2 separate regions of the Homo sapiens genome follow, and region 2 is linked to region 1. A link means that fine-mapping ties the variant in region 1 to the expression of a gene that starts in the linked region. Tissue or cell type: whole blood. Region 1 holds a variant in brackets; the other region holds the start of a gene. All regions are shown on one strand. Distances are between the middles of the regions.

What was found. PIP is the estimated chance that this variant, and not a neighbour inherited with it, causes the effect.
Region 2: it holds the start of BTBD6, and the variant in region 1 is fine-mapped to the expression of BTBD6 in whole blood (TOPMed, PIP 0.95).

Annotation. Positions count from the first base shown.
Region 1 is chr14:105,450,226-105,458,283 of GRCh38, reverse strand. MTA1 (metastasis associated 1) reads right to left here. Exons shown (of 21, transcript NM_004689.4): 6 at 7,960-8,023; 7 at 3,974-4,091; 8 at 1-14. Among named protein-coding and RNA genes, the nearest start is that of CRIP2, 21 kb to the left of the region's middle. The variant G/A (reference allele first, on the strand shown) is at 3,093.
Region 2 is chr14:105,245,134-105,253,202 of GRCh38, reverse strand. BTBD6 (BTB domain containing 6) reads right to left here and starts at 4,670. Exons shown (of 4, transcript NM_001387567.1): 1 at 4,118-4,670; 2 at 3,956-4,046; 3 at 3,725-3,843; 4 at 2,110-3,563. The coding sequence starts at 4,491. The coding sequence ends at 2,531. It overlaps BRF1 (BRF1 general transcription factor IIIB subunit), which reads left to right. Exons shown (of 18, transcript NM_001519.4): 5 at 624-696. RefSeq lists enhancers at 2,673-3,462, 4,254-5,044 and silencers at 4,069-4,118, 4,319-4,878.

The sequences.
Region 1 (8,058 bases):
GCCATCCTCCTCGCCTACAGGGAGGAAGTGTGGCCTTTCTGAGACGGGGTCCCACGGCGCGCCGGGCCGCGCCTCTCCTCCCCGGGTGCGGGGAGCTGCTGGGACGGGGAGGGGGAAGGGCTGCAGGGCCCCATAGGTGAGGCCAGGGTGCAAGGCTGGACGGAGGCTGTTGCACACACAGGCACACAGTGGCCTCTCAACCCGGGGCTGGGGTGCACACGCAAGGGGCCTCCCAGCCCACCCAGAATGCAGGGCTCCAAGAACTGTGGCCACAAGAGATGGGAAGGTTGGTTTGTAAATTTAAATCAAGCCTTTTTATTTATTTATTTATATTATTATTATTATTATTATTATTTTTTGAGACGGAGTCTCACTCTGTCGCCCAGGCTGGAATACAGTGGTACGATCTTGGCTCACTACAACCTCCGCCTCCCAGGTTCAAGCGATTCTCCTGCCTCAGCCTCCTGAGTAGCTGGGACCACAGGCACCGACACCATGCCCAGCTAATTTTTGTATTTTCAGTAGACACGGGGTTTCACCATGTTGCCCAGGCTGGTCTCGAACTCTTGACCTCAGGTGATCCATCCGCCTTAGCCTCCCAAAGTGTTGGGATCATAGGCGTGAGCCACCGTGCCCGGCCCAAGCTTTTTATTTTGAGATACTTGGGTTCACATGCTGTTGCAAGAGGGCCCTGCCACGTCACAGCAGCAGGCAGACCACCTCCAGGGACCTTCTGGGGGCACAGGCTCCCTCCTGGCCCCTCTTCCACCCCAGGGGGTTCTGGGGCAGCTGCGGCTAAGCCTGGCACAGCCAGAGCCGGGGGCCAGGGAGTGGGCGTGCCTCTGGAGTCACCAGTTGTTTCCTGTCTTCTGGGAGCTGGGACGATGGAGAACTCAAGGCTGGTGAAGAGGCCACCTGACGCCTGCAGTCGGCCAGGGCCAGGAGGGTTTCTGACGAAACAGCCTTTTACTCGCCAAAAAACAAGACCGTGGTGTTGGGAGACACCCTCAGGAGAATGTGTGTCTGAGCATGGCTGAGCCTGACTCCTGGGGGAGGACTTGGAGAAAGAGCTCCACAATTGTCCTCTGTCCACCTCTCAGCCGCCTCCATAGCTCAGTGCAGGGTGCCAGGCTCAGACTCTGCAAGCAGCTCCCCTCCAGCCCTGGGCAGCACCGAGGTTCCAGACCAAGGACCACGGAGTGCGGGGCTGCCCTCCACTGGGGCGCCCGGCTGCAGGTCCAGCATGGAGAGAGCTCTTGAGACTAGAAAGTCCCCAAGAAAATGCTATCCCTCGCTAAGGGGCACTGGCTCCCAGACCCTGCCCCAAGGGCCGGACATCCTGGGCCATGTGTCCAGGGAGGGTCAGGCCATGCGGCCTCTAGGAAACAATGCCTGGCCAGACTCAGAGGACGGGGTCAGCCAGGGACTGGGGCTGTGTGAACCAGCAAGGCGGGCTGGGGGGTCTTCAGCCTGGTGTGGACTCCTCACCTGGCTCAGGGGTACCCTGGGGAAGCTGGGGCCTAGCTCCCTGACGGCCAAGAAGCTGAGCCTTGGTGTGACCCACACAAGCCATGGTGCCTCCGTGTATGCGCACTGCTGGTCATGATGGTCGCACTCCCTTTGACATTTCAAACTCACTAAAGGCAGGTGCACAACTAGTGTGCAATTTTCCATCACTCAAGAGGGACACAGCCTCTCGGAGGTGGGGAAAGCTCTGGACGCCACGTCCCGGCCCCACACCAGCTGGTGGGATCCCTGGTCCTTGCACCAGCGGCCCAAAAGCCAAGGAACGGCAGGGCAGCGGGGAAGGCAGCGTGGGGAGAGGAGGCCGGCTCCTGCGGCTGGCTCGGCCTTGTGGACCCTTAGTCCCATCGCCCCAGACCCTGCAGAGCTCCGCCAGGTCTCTCCAGGTGTGCATGGTAAGATGGGGGCACCTCAAGGCCCATTCTCCTGACAGGCCCACTGGCCCCAGGCTGAAGGTACAGATGCGCCAGCTGAGGGCCTCTGACCTGAGACAGCTCCTCACTCTCTGGCCCTCATGTGATCTGTGTTCTCACCTGTCTCCCAGCCACGGACTCTGCCTTTCCACCTGGGTGCGGCTGCCAGGCCTTCACCTTTGGCCAGGCCAGAAAGGCAAGACAGCCCCAGGCTGGGAGACCCTGGCATGATAGCAGGGCACCCTGGAGGCCACAGGCCCAGACCCAGCACAGCGGCCTCCCCATGCTCAGACCCACAGGCCGGGCCCCAGCACAGTGGCCTCTCCACACTCAGACCCACAGGCCTCAGCACAGCGGCCTCTCCACACTCAGACCCACAGGCCTCAGCACAGTGACTTCCCCACACTTAGACCCACAGGCCGGGCTCCAGCACAGCGGCCTCCCCAGGCTCCGACCCACAGGCCTCAGCACAGAGGCCTCCTCCCCAGGCCCAGCCCTCAATGTGCCCTGTCTGCCTGGAGAGATGTGGGGGTCTTCCCCCACTGCCAAGCACCTCCCAGAGCACAGATGCTTGCAATGTAGCAGGCCCACGAGCCCAATGCTGGAGCCCACAGCTGCCTGGAGGAGGTGGCACACCCAGCCACCTGTGAGACGCACCAGCACCTTACGGACAATCAAGAAGAACACGAAACAGCACCAGCTACTCGGGAGGCTGAGGCTTGAGGATCGCTGGGGCCTAGGACTTCAAGTCCAGCCTGGGCGACACAGCAAGACCCGCTCTCAAAACAAACCAAAACAGGACAAGCACGAAACGCCTTGATCACAACTGCAAGCAGGGAGGCGAGTCCCCGCCCACCCTCGGGGGCAGAGCCCTGCGTCTCGAGGGCAGCCTCGCGGCCTTGCCCAGCGGGGAGATGAGGGACAGGGCTGAGAAGGGGACAGTGAGCCCCAGGACCTCCCACCAGGGCTACCGAAGCACCCGGTGGAGGGAGGAGGCTGCCAGCATCCGGGGTGAGCACTGCGTCGGAGCTCCACGGCCCCAGCAGGCCTCAAGGGTGGGGCACCCACAGGCAAGACAAGAAACGTGGGCAGATTCACACAGAAGAAAATTTCTGGAGGCAAAAAGAACTTTAAAAAATGAGGCCAGGTGCAGTG[G/A]CTCACACATGTAATCCCAGCAGTTTGGGAGGTCGAAGCAGGTAGATCACTTGAGTTCAGGGGTTTGAGACCAACCTGGGCAACATGGCGAAACCCTGTCTCTAATAAAAATACAAAAAAACTAGGGGGGTGTGGTGGTGCCCCTGTAGTTCCAGCTACTGAGGAGGCTGAGGTGGGAGGATCATCTGAGCCTGGGAGGTCGAGGCTGCAGTGAGCTGTGATTGCACCACTGCATTCCAGCCTGGGCGACAGAGCCAGACCTTGTCCAAAAAAAAGAAAAAGTAATGAAAAATAACTGCCAAGGCCAGACTCGGTGGCTCACGCCTGTAATCCCAGCACCTTGGGAGGCCTGAGGTCAAGAGTTCAAGACCAACGTGGCCAACACGGTGAAACCCCGTCTCTACTAAAAATAAAAAAATTAGCCGGGCGTGATGGCGGGCGCCTGTAATCCCAGCTACTCGGGAGGCTGAGGCAGGAGAATCGCTTGAACCTGGGAGGCGGAGGTTGCAGTGAGCCGAGATCACCCCACTGCACTCCAGCCTGGGCAACAGAGCGAGACTCCGTCTGAAAAAAAAGAAAAAGAAAAACAACTGCCAGAAGGAAACCAGGTGTCACTGTGCAAGGACAGCTGATCACCACGTCCTGCCTGAGGGTCTGAGGCTTCCCCAGAACCCCAACACCACCAGGAGTGGGTGGGGGAAGGCTCCGGGACACCAGCCTACACGCATCACCCATGTGGACAGAGCCCAGGCCTACACCTGCCGCCCCCAGTCACACATGAATCACTGACACGGCCATGTCCCAGCCTCCTCTCACCCAGTGTGTCACCCGGCAGGACAGGACAGGACAGAGGGCTCCATGCCCAGGGCGGCCCACCCTACCTTCTTTTAACAAGTCGGTGATGTCTGCCTGGTACCGGTTTCCTACTCGAATCTCTCCTTTATCTGCCAGCAGGGTCTTCTGCTGTGGGTCGTAGACTAGAGAATAGAAGAAGAAATCCTGGAAAACACCACAGGAGACAGAGAGGCGTCAGCACAGTCAGGCTGCTGGGAGGGTCAGAGAGGCGTCAGCACGGCCGGGCTGCTGGGAGGGTCTTGCCCAGAGCTCTTGTGGGGCGACATGGGCGCAGGAGGGAGGGAGGGCGCAGGAGCCCCCACAGCTCCCGGCCATGCCTGGGAGGAGCCTACAGCGGGGCCTCGAGGGTCACTGGGGGATGCACCTGCCCCATGACACTGCACGGAGGAGACATGCCGAGGGTCAGCAGAGGCAGGGCCAATGAGCAGCTGCAGGGGTGGGGCCAGGCTCCACAAGCCTTTACCAAGGCAGGGTGGATACGGCTACAGCCCAAAAACCATGACTTATTTGCCTTTTTATTTTTTTGAGGCAGAGTTTCGCTCTTGTCGCCCAGGTTGGAGTGCAATGGCGTGATCTCGGCTCACTGCAACCTCCGTTTCCCGGGTTCAAGCAATTCTCCTGCCTCAGCCTTCCAAGTAGCTGGGATTACAGGTGCCCACCACCACACCTAGCTAATATTTTGTATTTTCAGTAGAGACAGAGTTTCACCATGTTGGCCAGGCTGTTCTCAAACTCCTGAGCTCAGGTGATCCACCCGCCTCGGCCTCCCAAAGTGCTGGAATTACTGGCGTCAGCCACTGCGCCCAGCAGACTTATTTTCCTTTTTCGAAACATGGTCTCGCTCCGTCGCCCAGGCTGGAGTGCAGCAGTGCAATCACAGCTCACTGTGGCCTCCGCCTCCTGGGTTCAAGTGATCCTCCCACCTCAGCCTCCAAGTAGTTGAGACTACAGGCGTGTGCTATGCCCGGCTACAAAGCCATCCCTATCAGCAGCAGCAATGTGAAGATGTAACTTATCCAAGGTGTTTAAGAGCAACAGAAATCAGGAGTTCTGGGCACAACCTTGGAGGAGCGGCCACCGCTGGAGCGCTACGGAGCATTCCAGGCTCAGCACCGCCGGCCGCCACCCGCGCAGCAGGCGCGGCCCTTCCCGCCAGCATTCCATCTCAGGCAACCTCACACCAGGGCCCCCAGGCTGCCTCTGGGATGGCATTTCCAGGACATGGCCTTTGCCAACCTTTTGCTGTCCGGCATTGTGTGTCCTGCACTGGGCTGGTTCTGATGATTTTTGAAGCAGGCCTGTCCGGGCCTGACCCTGGAGTCCCAGCCTGAGCACCTGGCCTCAGCCAGGGCTGCACTTTCTTCTGCATGTGTGCCTGGCGTCCAATCACCCTCCCGTTTCCAGGTCATCCTCCTGATTCCTGTGGGTCGTCTTTTCCAGCCCTTACCCGCTTTCCCTGTCTCTCCTATTCTGAAAGCTACTCTGCGTGTTTTCTTTCAAGAGCTACCTTTAAAGTCCAGCATGACACCTGCTCCATGTGTGACCACGAGCCATGCTTCAGGGCCTTCGTCCTCTTGAACTGACACGACTATCCAGAGGCCAGCTGCCAGCCTCAGCCTCAGCTCCTACTCTGCCTGGATCTTTTATTTTTTTTGGAGATAGGGTCTTGCTCTATCACCCAAGATAGAGTACAGTGGTGCGATCTTGCTTCAGTGAAGCCTCCGCCTCTTGACTCAAGCAATCCTCCCACCTCAGCCTCCTGAGTAGCTGGGACAACAGTAAGTGTGCACCACCACGCCTGGCTAATGTTTTTTACTTTTGTAGAGGTGAGGTCTCACTATGATGCCCAGGCTGCTCTTGAACTCCTGAGCTCAAGTGATTCCCCCGGCCTTGGCCTCCCAAAGTGCTGGGATTACAGGCATGAGCCACTGTACCCGGCCTGTTTCTTTAAATTAATAAACACAAGTGGTTTCTATTTGGTGCCGGACTGCGCCACTGGTCAGGGCCTGGGTGTGTCTGTGACTGCTGTGTGCTGTTTCTGCACTCTTGCTTATCTGTGACATGAGCCTGTGTTTATCAGGACTTCATCAGTGAGGGTTATTTGAGGCGAGGCAGGGGCACGATCGCCCAGGGGCCAGTGGCACAAGCTTCTGCCAGGTGCTAAGTGTACTCACCCTGAGCCTGTTACATTAAATTCCCATATTGGGGCTGTTCAGAAACCCCAGGTAAGAAAGAAGAGGGAAGTGGCTGGGCGCAGTGGCTCATGCCTGTAATCCCAACAGTTCGGGAGGCAGAGGCGGGATGATCACCTGAGGTCAGGAGTTTGAGACCAGCCCGGCTAACATGGTGAAACCCCATTTCTACTAAAAATACAAAAAATTAGCCGGACATGGTGACACACGTCTGTAATCCCAGCTACTCGGGAGGCTGAGACAGGAGAATCGCTTGAACCCGGGAGGCGGAGGTTGCAGTGAGCTGAGATCGCGCCACTGTACTCCAGCCTGGGCAACAAGAGCGAAACTCTGTCTCAAAAAAAAAAAAAAAAAAAAAAAACAAAAAAAGAAAAAGAAAAAGGGGGGAAGGGCTGCATCGTGCAGCAGGAGGGTTTCAGGGTGCCTGAGCAGCCTGTTTTGTCCCCGGCAAGCATGGACCCGGCCGTTTCTGGGCGGACACAGTGCAGACAGGCTTGTCACTGCACCTGCTGCTTCCTCACGGGCCTTTTTTGCTAACAAACATTTTCTGTGCCCACAGATACATTTCTGCAGTCTCACCCTCTCTGTGTGGCTCTGTCAATAAGGGCACTCCTCATTCCTGAGTGGAAGCCTTCACAGCGACCCCCACAGCCTCTGCTCCCGCCCAGCATGTTGTGGCTCAGCCTTCTGGGAAGCTGGTCTGGCAGCCTGAGAGGGTTCGAGCCCTGCCCATGCTCCACGCATGTGTTACGACCCCAGGCCAAGCCCTGCCTGCTCTTCTCTGCCTGCTCATGACTCTGAGCTAAGGCACGACCACAGCCCTAGCTGAGCCACTGTCGCCCTTCACGCCTGTTTCCAGGCTGTGTGGTGGGAATGGGGACCGGGGCCACAGAGGTAGTGCAGGGCTGAGCTTGGGACACACCGTGGCCATCCTGGATCCTTCAGAGCCCATGCCAGAGCGCCGATGGCCACGACAGAGATGAGCCCCCCTGGGATGGGCAGGGTGGGGGCCGCATCCAGCAACCTGCATCTGAGCTGACTGGACACGCTGGGGGTGTTCAGGTCACAAGACTCCAGCCAGGTGGCAGCAGAGCCCGTGGGAGGCCAAGCCCTAGGCCTGGAGATGCGCCTGCCCCTTGGCAGGTGTGCCCCGCAACTGTGACAGGCACTCCAGGGAACCAACACACTCCAGACGCTTTTGCCCCCACGTGGCCTCAGAAAACCCAACCCTCCCGTTCGCTGGATCTCACAGCAGCCTCAGTGCCACCGCTCTCCGTCAGGCGACACTGCTCCCCAGGGATGTATGGCATTGTCGGGACACATTTTTTGGTTGTCACGCCTTGGGGGATGCTATACGGCAGGTTAACACCGTATAATCACAGGTGACCCCCAGATAAGAATCACCTGGTAACACCGTATAATCACAGTGACCCCCAAGGTGGGCCTACCAGGACTCTGCCCACCGCCCAGGAGAGACCAGCCAAGACTCCTGCGAAGACTCAGGTGGCCCCTGCCCCCACCTGCCTCAGCCACACCCTCCCCAGGGGGACCTCCCCTCGCTGGCTGTCTGGGTGGCAGTGGCAAGAGGAAAGAGCTCCAAGCTCCTGGCCCACAACTCTGGACGCGTAGGGTGGGGGCGGCCACACACCAGGACACCTGGAAGTGACAGTCAGGACGCAATCCCCGCTTCCCCCCAGAACAGCCTGGGCCTAGAGGGAGGAGGGAAAATCGTCTCCGCCGCCCAGGCCAGCAGAGGTCATAGGTAGAGGAAACAGTGGCCCGGGACTGGCTGCGGCAGACCAGGCCGGGCTGGGCCTCACCTCCCGCTCCAGGTAGGACTTGAGCGACTCGGTCTCGTTGAGCAGGGTGACGCTGCACTTGCCCCTGGAAGAGAAGGACGGGCAGGCTGGAAAGGCGAG
Region 2 (8,069 bases), 210 kb after region 1:
AGAGTCCTTGTTTTGCTGAGGACAAGCAGCGGTGCTCCCATCACTGCCAGCCCTCGGCGTTGCCCTTCTCGGTCTGGGCCTCACCTCCACTGCCCTATGGCAGATAGCCGAGGCAGGGGTGACAGGATCTGTGTGGATTTGGACCTAAGGTAGGAACAGTGTGGGGGGCAGGGGAGTCACTGAGGAACACAGATCTCAGTCCCAGCAAGGGGGCTGAGGCCAAGACCCCTGGGCCCATCGGAATCTGGGCTGGAGGTGTGGCTGGTGGGAGCACATGTGGACAGAACTGGTTTTGTGTTCATGGGTGTGCAGTTGTGAATGAAATGCTGCGTGCACCGTGTGATGACGCCCTGGGAGGAACCTTGCAGTCAGGTTTTCTTCTAAGCAGATGCCATCATTGGCGAGACGGCAGCACGGCCTAAAGCAGCGGCTTAGAGGAAGAAGGCAGGGCCCTGGGAGCCCCAGCAGCCAAGGGAGGCCAGCCAGGCTTGCGGGTGTGGGGTGGCTGCTCCACGGGCCATCGGAGTCTTTAAAGACTGCACAAGAGATGCATTTTAAGAGAAAAAAAGCAAACATTTCCTTAAATACCAATGCTGTTTCTGGTTGTGATCTCTCCATCTCAGGTGAATGTGTACGTGCTTGGAAAGACGTTTCTTCTCTTGGCAAGAGAGCTCTGCATCAATGCGCCGGCCATAGGTAGGCATCTGGGTGAGATGCTGGGGTGTCCGGCAGGCTGCTGTAGGGACCAGCGTGCCAAATGTCCTTTGAACAGTGGAGGGAAATCCTGTCCAAGCATGGGACCCCTCAAGGTAAGAAATGTTTCTTAAAGCTGCTAGGAGCTCAGTAATGTGGGGCCTTATTTTCTAAGACACAGTCTCGCTGTTGTCCAGGCTGGAGTGCAGTGGCACAATCGTAGCTCACTGCAGCCTCAAACTCCTGGCCTCAAGTGATCCTCGTGCCTTCGCCTCCCAAAGCACTGGGATTACAGGCATGAGACCGCACCTGGCCTGGGGCTTGCTTTCTGCTGCAAAACCAGAAGGCCTGTTGTCAGTGCCTGTCAGGTGGCAGGAAGGTGTAGACAGGGAAACAAGTGCTGCGTGCTGGGAGCATCTTGTGTGGACAAGGTTTAAGGGACACACCTGGCTCCAGGTGCCTCTGGACAGATGGGGACAGTGGGGCAGCTCCTGGTTGTGCTTTCCAGCCACAGCCCTCTTTTGTGGTTTTTCTGCCACTTTTGTTCTGTGTTGTGTGCGAGTTTGTGGAACTCCTGTATGCCTTTCTTGATGTGTGTTAGGTGTAGGGTAAGTCCTGTCTCTCCCTCGAGGCAGCAGCAGTGTTCATGCATGCAGAATCTAACCTAGCGGAAAAGTCTAGAAGGAAAGGATCAAAACAGCACTCACTGCCCGATGGTTCTGACCTACCCTTTCTTTACCAAGCAGATGACTGGTTTCCATGGCCCGCTTAGAGGCCCCTTTCTTACTTTGCCTGTTTGCATCTAGGAGCGTATGTCCTTTGGGTAGAGAAGCACCAGGTGGGGCTGGGTCACCAACAGGACTGAGCAACACGGGCTGCAGCAGCAGAGGGGCACCGGCTGAGGCTATACACTCGGCCCATGCCCTCTCCCAGGTGCCAAGAGGGGCCATCCCTCTTTTCGGGGGTCATACAGGTTTTCCAGAAAACAACTGCCTACAGGGTATGCAGAGTGGGAGGAGAGAGACAAGGGGTGGGAGAGCCTGTTTCACCCTATAGTCCACTCCTGCAACAGGCTGTCCCGCAGCAGTGTCACAGCTAGTGACAGTCCCCAGGGTCCAGAACGCTGGGCCCAGCAGAATGCTCCCCCGACAGTCTGTTCATAGGGTAGGACTCTGAGGTGCTAGTGATGCATTAGGACATAGAGACAACCAGGCACCTGGTGTTTCCTAGGGTGGCCCAGAAGCCAGCCAGCAACCCAGGGGACAGATGGGCTTCACTGGGGCGCAGTTTGCTCCTAACCACATAGCATGTTCAGCATGACAGGTTTTCTCCTCGGGATGGGAGGGAGCTGTTCTGTTGCATGAGAAAGAGAATACCCCACTGTACAACTGCTGTAGTCATTTACTGACACGTGGGTGTTATTTTAGGCAACCTTTATTACAGAAGTCCACTATTTTAAGTGACTTTTTGCCAATTTTAGATTTGAAGGGAAGGTCTCAAGTTAAGCTTGGAACCACTTAGAATCCAAGAGGGTAGCAGGAAGATCCAACCCCTCAAAGCAGGTGGCATGGGTGCCACTGGGAGGGGATCTGGGGCCTGTCTTGAGCCGTAAATCTTCCTCCACCTGAGACGTGCACCCCACTGTACCAGAGATGCCTAAGACTCCAATCCCTGGGTTCTGGCTGTGTGGAAAATGTCTCTACACAGTCAAGCTTCAGCTGACTACATGTCAAAGAGAGACAAAGTTAAGAGCAGCCTTTCATGGTGTCAAGAAGCAGTTAGCATCTTGACTTCCCCTCCACTCACTCGCTGACCTGCTGCAGCCTCCCCGGGCACCTCAGGCATAGAAAATGAGCTCAGGGATCTGCCCACCCTGGACCCCAGTCCCGTTGGTGCTGTCCGAGGAGCACTGGAACTGGAAGGCCACCTTTCCACACTGCACTTCCGTCATCCCCTCCTGCCCAAAGTAGCTGAGTTCGCTGCCGTCCAGGACGGCACTGGCCGTGTAGAAGGTGTCTTGTTCAACCTGGACCGGGTGTTCAAACCAGACCGGGAAGGTGTTACTGGATCCGTCTGACATGAACTTGGTCAAGTTCTGAGCCAGAACCACCCCGAGCCGCTTGAGCTCAATCTTCACGCTGTACTCAGCCTTCCCAGAGCTGGAGCCATACAGGCCCAGCCCTGCAATAAATACCCTTCTGTCCACTGCAAACTGGATGCTGTCGCAGCGCCCGCGGTACCGCCACTGGTTGCTGCGGTAGGCAGAAGACTGGAATCGGTGGCACCTCTGCGGGGCGAGGCCCTTCCTCTTGGTCAGGGGAAAGTCCAGGCGGGGCTTGTTGGTGGCCGTGTACCACAGGAAGATGCTGTGGGTCTCCTCCAGAGTCAGGATGTCTGACTGGGCAGCGCCGTTGGCAAACTCCTCTAGGGTCATGGTTGGAATTCGGACCAGATAGAGGGCTCGCCCCAGAACATGCCTCTTGTTTCGTGGGGTGATTGGCAGCCCCTGCCTCTTGCACTCCGCCTCGGCCCAGTTCAGGACGGCCTCGAAGACCACCGCCTCTTTGGTGTTGAGGGCCTCCCGAGTGACAATGATCTCCAGCGTCTGCCGGTCTATCTCACAGAAGCCTTCGGACCGTAGGGCCATCTCGGCCTGTGCGTCAATGACCTCCCAGCAGCGCTGCGTCAGCTCGGGCTCCTCAAACAGCCGGCTCTGGGACAGCAGGACGCAGGCGTTCTTGGCTTCCAAACTTGTCTCCAGAAAGTTGACACAGGCTTTTGCCAATGCTGGGACGATGTACTTCTTAGCAGCGTACAGAGTGGCCAGCACCGTGTCGGCTTCCAGATCGATCTCATCACTGTACATGTACCTAGGCGAGGCAGGGCCCGCGTCAGGGGCTGGCTCCCAAGCACCCATCGCGGGGCTGGGCCTGGGAGAGGAGTCCATCAGCTCCTGTGTGCTTCCCTTCAGAAGCCTCCGGAGGCCGCCTAAAACGGACCCACCCGTCCCTCCCCAGTAGAGTGGACTTACTTTAAGAGGATCAGAAAGGCTGCGGGCTCCACGTCTGGAATGTGAATTTCAGATTTGACTTCCGCCAGGTCTCCGTAGAACATGGCATAGAAGACGGAGCTGCCGACAGCCAAGACGTACTGGGAGGAGAAAGCGCCGCCGTGAGCCTGGCTCTCCCGCAGGCTGCGTGTCAGCCACACGGCGGACGGGGCGGACGGGGCACGCGTTCCGAGAGGGGCCGCCGCTACCCACCTTGTGGGCGGGCACCGTCCTGGTCGCCCCCGGGGGCCCCACGACGAAGTGCACGTCGGCCATGAGCTCGTTGTTGAACATGAGCGCGTTCCTGCAAAGGTAGAGGCACGGGCTGGGGGCGTGGGCGCGCGCGGGCGCGGGGGCCGCGGGGCACGGGCTCACCTCTCGCGCAGCGTGGGGCGGCAGCACCGCCAGCCGGGGCTCTCCTGGTGGTTGTTGCCGAGTGTGGGCGGCGCGGGCGCGGGCGGCGGCGGCGCTGGCGCGGGGGCGCTGGGCGGGCTGCGCGGCCCGGCCTTCCTGCCCACGGCGGCGCCGGCGTTGCTGTTGGCTAGGTCCGCGGCCGCGGCGCTGGCGGGAGCGTAGAGTTCCGCCGCCATCTTCGCGGGCGGGGCGGCGGGGGCAGCCTCGGCGCCTGTGGACGCCGCGCCCCGCGCCCTCGCGCCGCGCCGGGGCCTCGGGAGCGGCTCTGCAAGCAAAAGCAAGGAGGTCAGGCACTGAGCGACGCGGCCGTGCAGGCAGGCTAGGGGCAGCAGCATGGGCGGCGGCGGCGCTGTGACCCGCGGGGCTGCCACCCGCTCCCCTGCCACCCCCGCCCCTGCGACCCTGCCCGAGCCCAGCCTAGCGCAGCCCGGCCAGGCCCGGCCGCGGGGGGCGCCGTCCCGCCCGCCCGCCCGCCCGAGCCCGTACCCGCCGCGGCGCCGGTGCGTCACGCTGCGTCAGGGCCGCGCCCCGCGCGACGTCGCTGCCTCGCGGCCCCGCCCCCAGGCCCGACATCCTCGAAGCTGCTCGAGCTTCTGCCCAGCAACCGGCGCGAGCCGCGCGCTGTGCAGAGGTAGCCGTGGAAGGCGGCTCCCGGCGCTGGCAGGCGGCCGCCCCCAGACCCGCAGTGCCATGCGCAGGTGCTTGCGCCCGTTCTTCAGTTAGCGATCTTTTGGTTAGGAACGCAGGTGGACCTGCTTGTTTGGCCATTTGCATTCCGGAGTCTGCCTCTGGCCGCGGCCTGTGGGATGGTCGTTGGGCTTCCTCGTTCGTTCAGATGCTTCGCGATTTAGCTTGCTACGGACGCCAGCAGCCAGCGCTTGCAGAGAGCGCGGTCCACTCTGCTCTGAGGGCTTTACAGGGGCAGGCGCTGCTATTTCCCGGCATTTTCCTCGAGGAAATAGGCACAGAGAGGTTAGTCGCGCGCTGAAGGTCACACAGCCGGCGGGTGGGCAAGTCAGGATCTGGCCCTGGGCCTGCAGCCCTGGAGCTTGGGCCCCAGGGCGCGCCCTGCCTCTGTGGCTCTGCCTGTGGATCGCAGTCGCAGGCTCGCTCCTTGTGGGGCCTCTAGCCTCCCGGCCTGGGGCTAATCCTGGGAGGTGCGTGGCATGGGGCACTGGCTTTGCTGATGAGGAGACCAGACTTCAGAGGCCGTGTCACCTGGCCTGGGCCGCACAGCTGGTGCATGCCAAGCTCGCGTGCAGACGAAGCTCCAGAGGCCTGGCTGTCAGGAGGGTTCCTCCCCGAGGACACACACGCAACCTCCTGGACCGCCAGGCTTTAGACTTTTAAAACTTCCATATGCAGGAAACCCCACAGGACGCAGCCAGCATCTCGGGTCATGGGTGCACCTGTCACCGCAGTCCTGGGCTAAACAGTGAACAGGAGCTCTGTGTCTCTGTGGTCGTTACAGTTGTAGTGAATGTTCCCTGGGAGAGTCCTCTTCAGAAGATATTTGCGGTATTTTCAACAAAGGACTCTCCAGGATGGAGGAGCAACTACAAGTCAGGAAGGAAAAGGCTGACAACCCAGTTTTTTAAAAAACGGGCAAAGGACGTGAACAGACACCATGCAATGGCCCAGAGTGCACAAATCATCATTTCTCCCAGGAATGGGGTGCCCGAGCCCCCAGGCGGCTGAACTTGAGACTTGTCACGTAGTGTTGGTGGAATGCAGAGCAGCTGGAGATCACCTGCTGCAGGTGGGTGCGTAACTCCGCACGGCCAAGCCGTTTGGAAAGCTGTAGCATATGCATGAGAGTCCGGAAAGTTCCGAGAGAAAGTGTGTGGATGCACCCGCCAAGGACACACCCACCGAGGCCACAGCTGCGATTTCATAGTGTGGGACCCCACTGGCAAAGACACGCTGGCTGCTGTGGCCGTGGTTTCTGTCCCAGCCGTCTGTTTCCATAGAAAAAGGTAACGGGCATAAGCAGTTTCCAGGAGAAATACAAATGGCCAGAGTGGAGACAGCCTACATGTCCATCAGCAACAGAAAGGATCAGCAGGTTGTGGTGGGTCCATTTGGGGAATGCAGTGAGAAGGAATAACTTACAGCAGCACACAAGACCTGGGCGACAGCTGTCTCCGGGGGTGCCAGGATAGAATTGCTGAGCCGCCAGAGGTAGTCAGCGTCTTGATCTGCATGGTGGTGTGGAGCATGTGAATAATAATTTTCATCCTTAGAAAGAAACCACCCTTTGCACTTTGATTTTTAAATATGTTACAGTGTAGGTTGGGCGCGGTGGCTCACGCCTGTAATCCCAGCACTTTGGGAGGCCAAGGTGGGCGGATCACTTGAGGTCAGGAGTTTGAGACCAGCCTGGCCAACATGGTGAAACCCCATCTCTACTAAAAATACAAAAATTAACGGGCACCTGTAATCCCAGCTATTCGGGAGGCCAAGGAAGGAGAATGGCTCGAACCAGGGAGGCGGAGGTTGCAGTGAGCTGAGATCATGCTACTGCACTCCAGCCTGGATGACAGAGCGAGACTCCGTTGACCAGGCTGGTCTTAAACTCCTGGCCTCAAGTGATCTACCTGCCTAGGCCTCCCAAAGTGCTGGGATTACAGGTGTGAGCCACCGCGCCCAGCCTATTCTTTTTTGTTTGTGATAATGGTCATCCTAATGGACATGAGGTAGTGTCATGTGGTTTTGATTTGCATGTCCCTGATAAATAATGATGTTGACCATCTACTCATGTGCTTGTTGGCTATTTGCATGGCGTGTTTGGAGAAACGTCTGTTCAAGGGCTTTGCCTTTTTTTTTTGAGACAGAGTCTTACTCCGTTGCCCAGGCTGGAGTGCGGTGGTGAGGGTGCACTGCAACATCCGCCTTCCAGGTTCAAGCGATTCTTGTGCCTCAGCCTCCCAAAGAGCTGGGATTACAAAAGTGCAGTTTGCCCATTTTTAATCGATTTTGTTCCTGAGTTGGAGTTTTTTGTATATTCAGGCTGTTAACCCCTTATGAGATAGATGGTTTGCACATAGTCTCTTCCATTCTATAGGATATCATTTCTGTTAATAGATTCCTTTGCTGTGCAGAAACTTTTTAGTTTGAGGTCATCCCATTTGTCTATTTTTACTTTCGTTGCCCTTGCTGTTGGTGTCATGTTCAAGAAATCATTGCCAAGACCAATGTCGTGAAGTCTTTCCCTTTGTTTTCTTCTAAGGGTTTTACAGTTTCAAGTCTGTGTTTGGGTCTTGCATCGGTTTTGAGTTAGTTTTTGTGTATGATGTAAGGTAAGGGTCTATCTTTATTTGCAAGTGGATATCCAGTTTTCCCAGCGCTGCATATTGAAGAGACCATCCTTTCCCCATTGTGCAAGAAGTTCTTGTCACCCTTGTTGAAGGTCATCTGTCTGTCATTGTCATTTCTGGCCCTGTGCTGTCCTGTCCTGTCCTGTCCTGTCCTGTTCTGTTCTGTTGGTCTGTAGGTCTGTCTTTATGTCAGCACCATACTGGCTGTTGGACTTTTTAATTCTTTTCTTGACAGTGGTAATTTATTTGCTTCTTTTTCTTATTAGTCCCTTTGCCTACTTTAAATAATTAATTTTGTTAATTTTTAGTTTTCTGTTATTTTAGTTCATTAATTTCATTGCTTCCTTTATTTATTTATTTATTTTTTTTGAGATGGAGTCTTGCTCTGTCACTCAGGCTGGAGTGCAGTGGCACGATCTCAGCTCACTGCAACCTCCACCTCCCAGGTTCAAGTGATTCTCCTGTCTCAGTCTCCTGAGTAGCTGGGATTACAGGCACTTGCCACCATGCCCGGCTAATTTTTTGTATTTTTTAGTAGAGACGGGGTTTCGCTGTGTTGCCCGGGCTGGTTTCAAACTTCTGAGCTCAGGCAATCC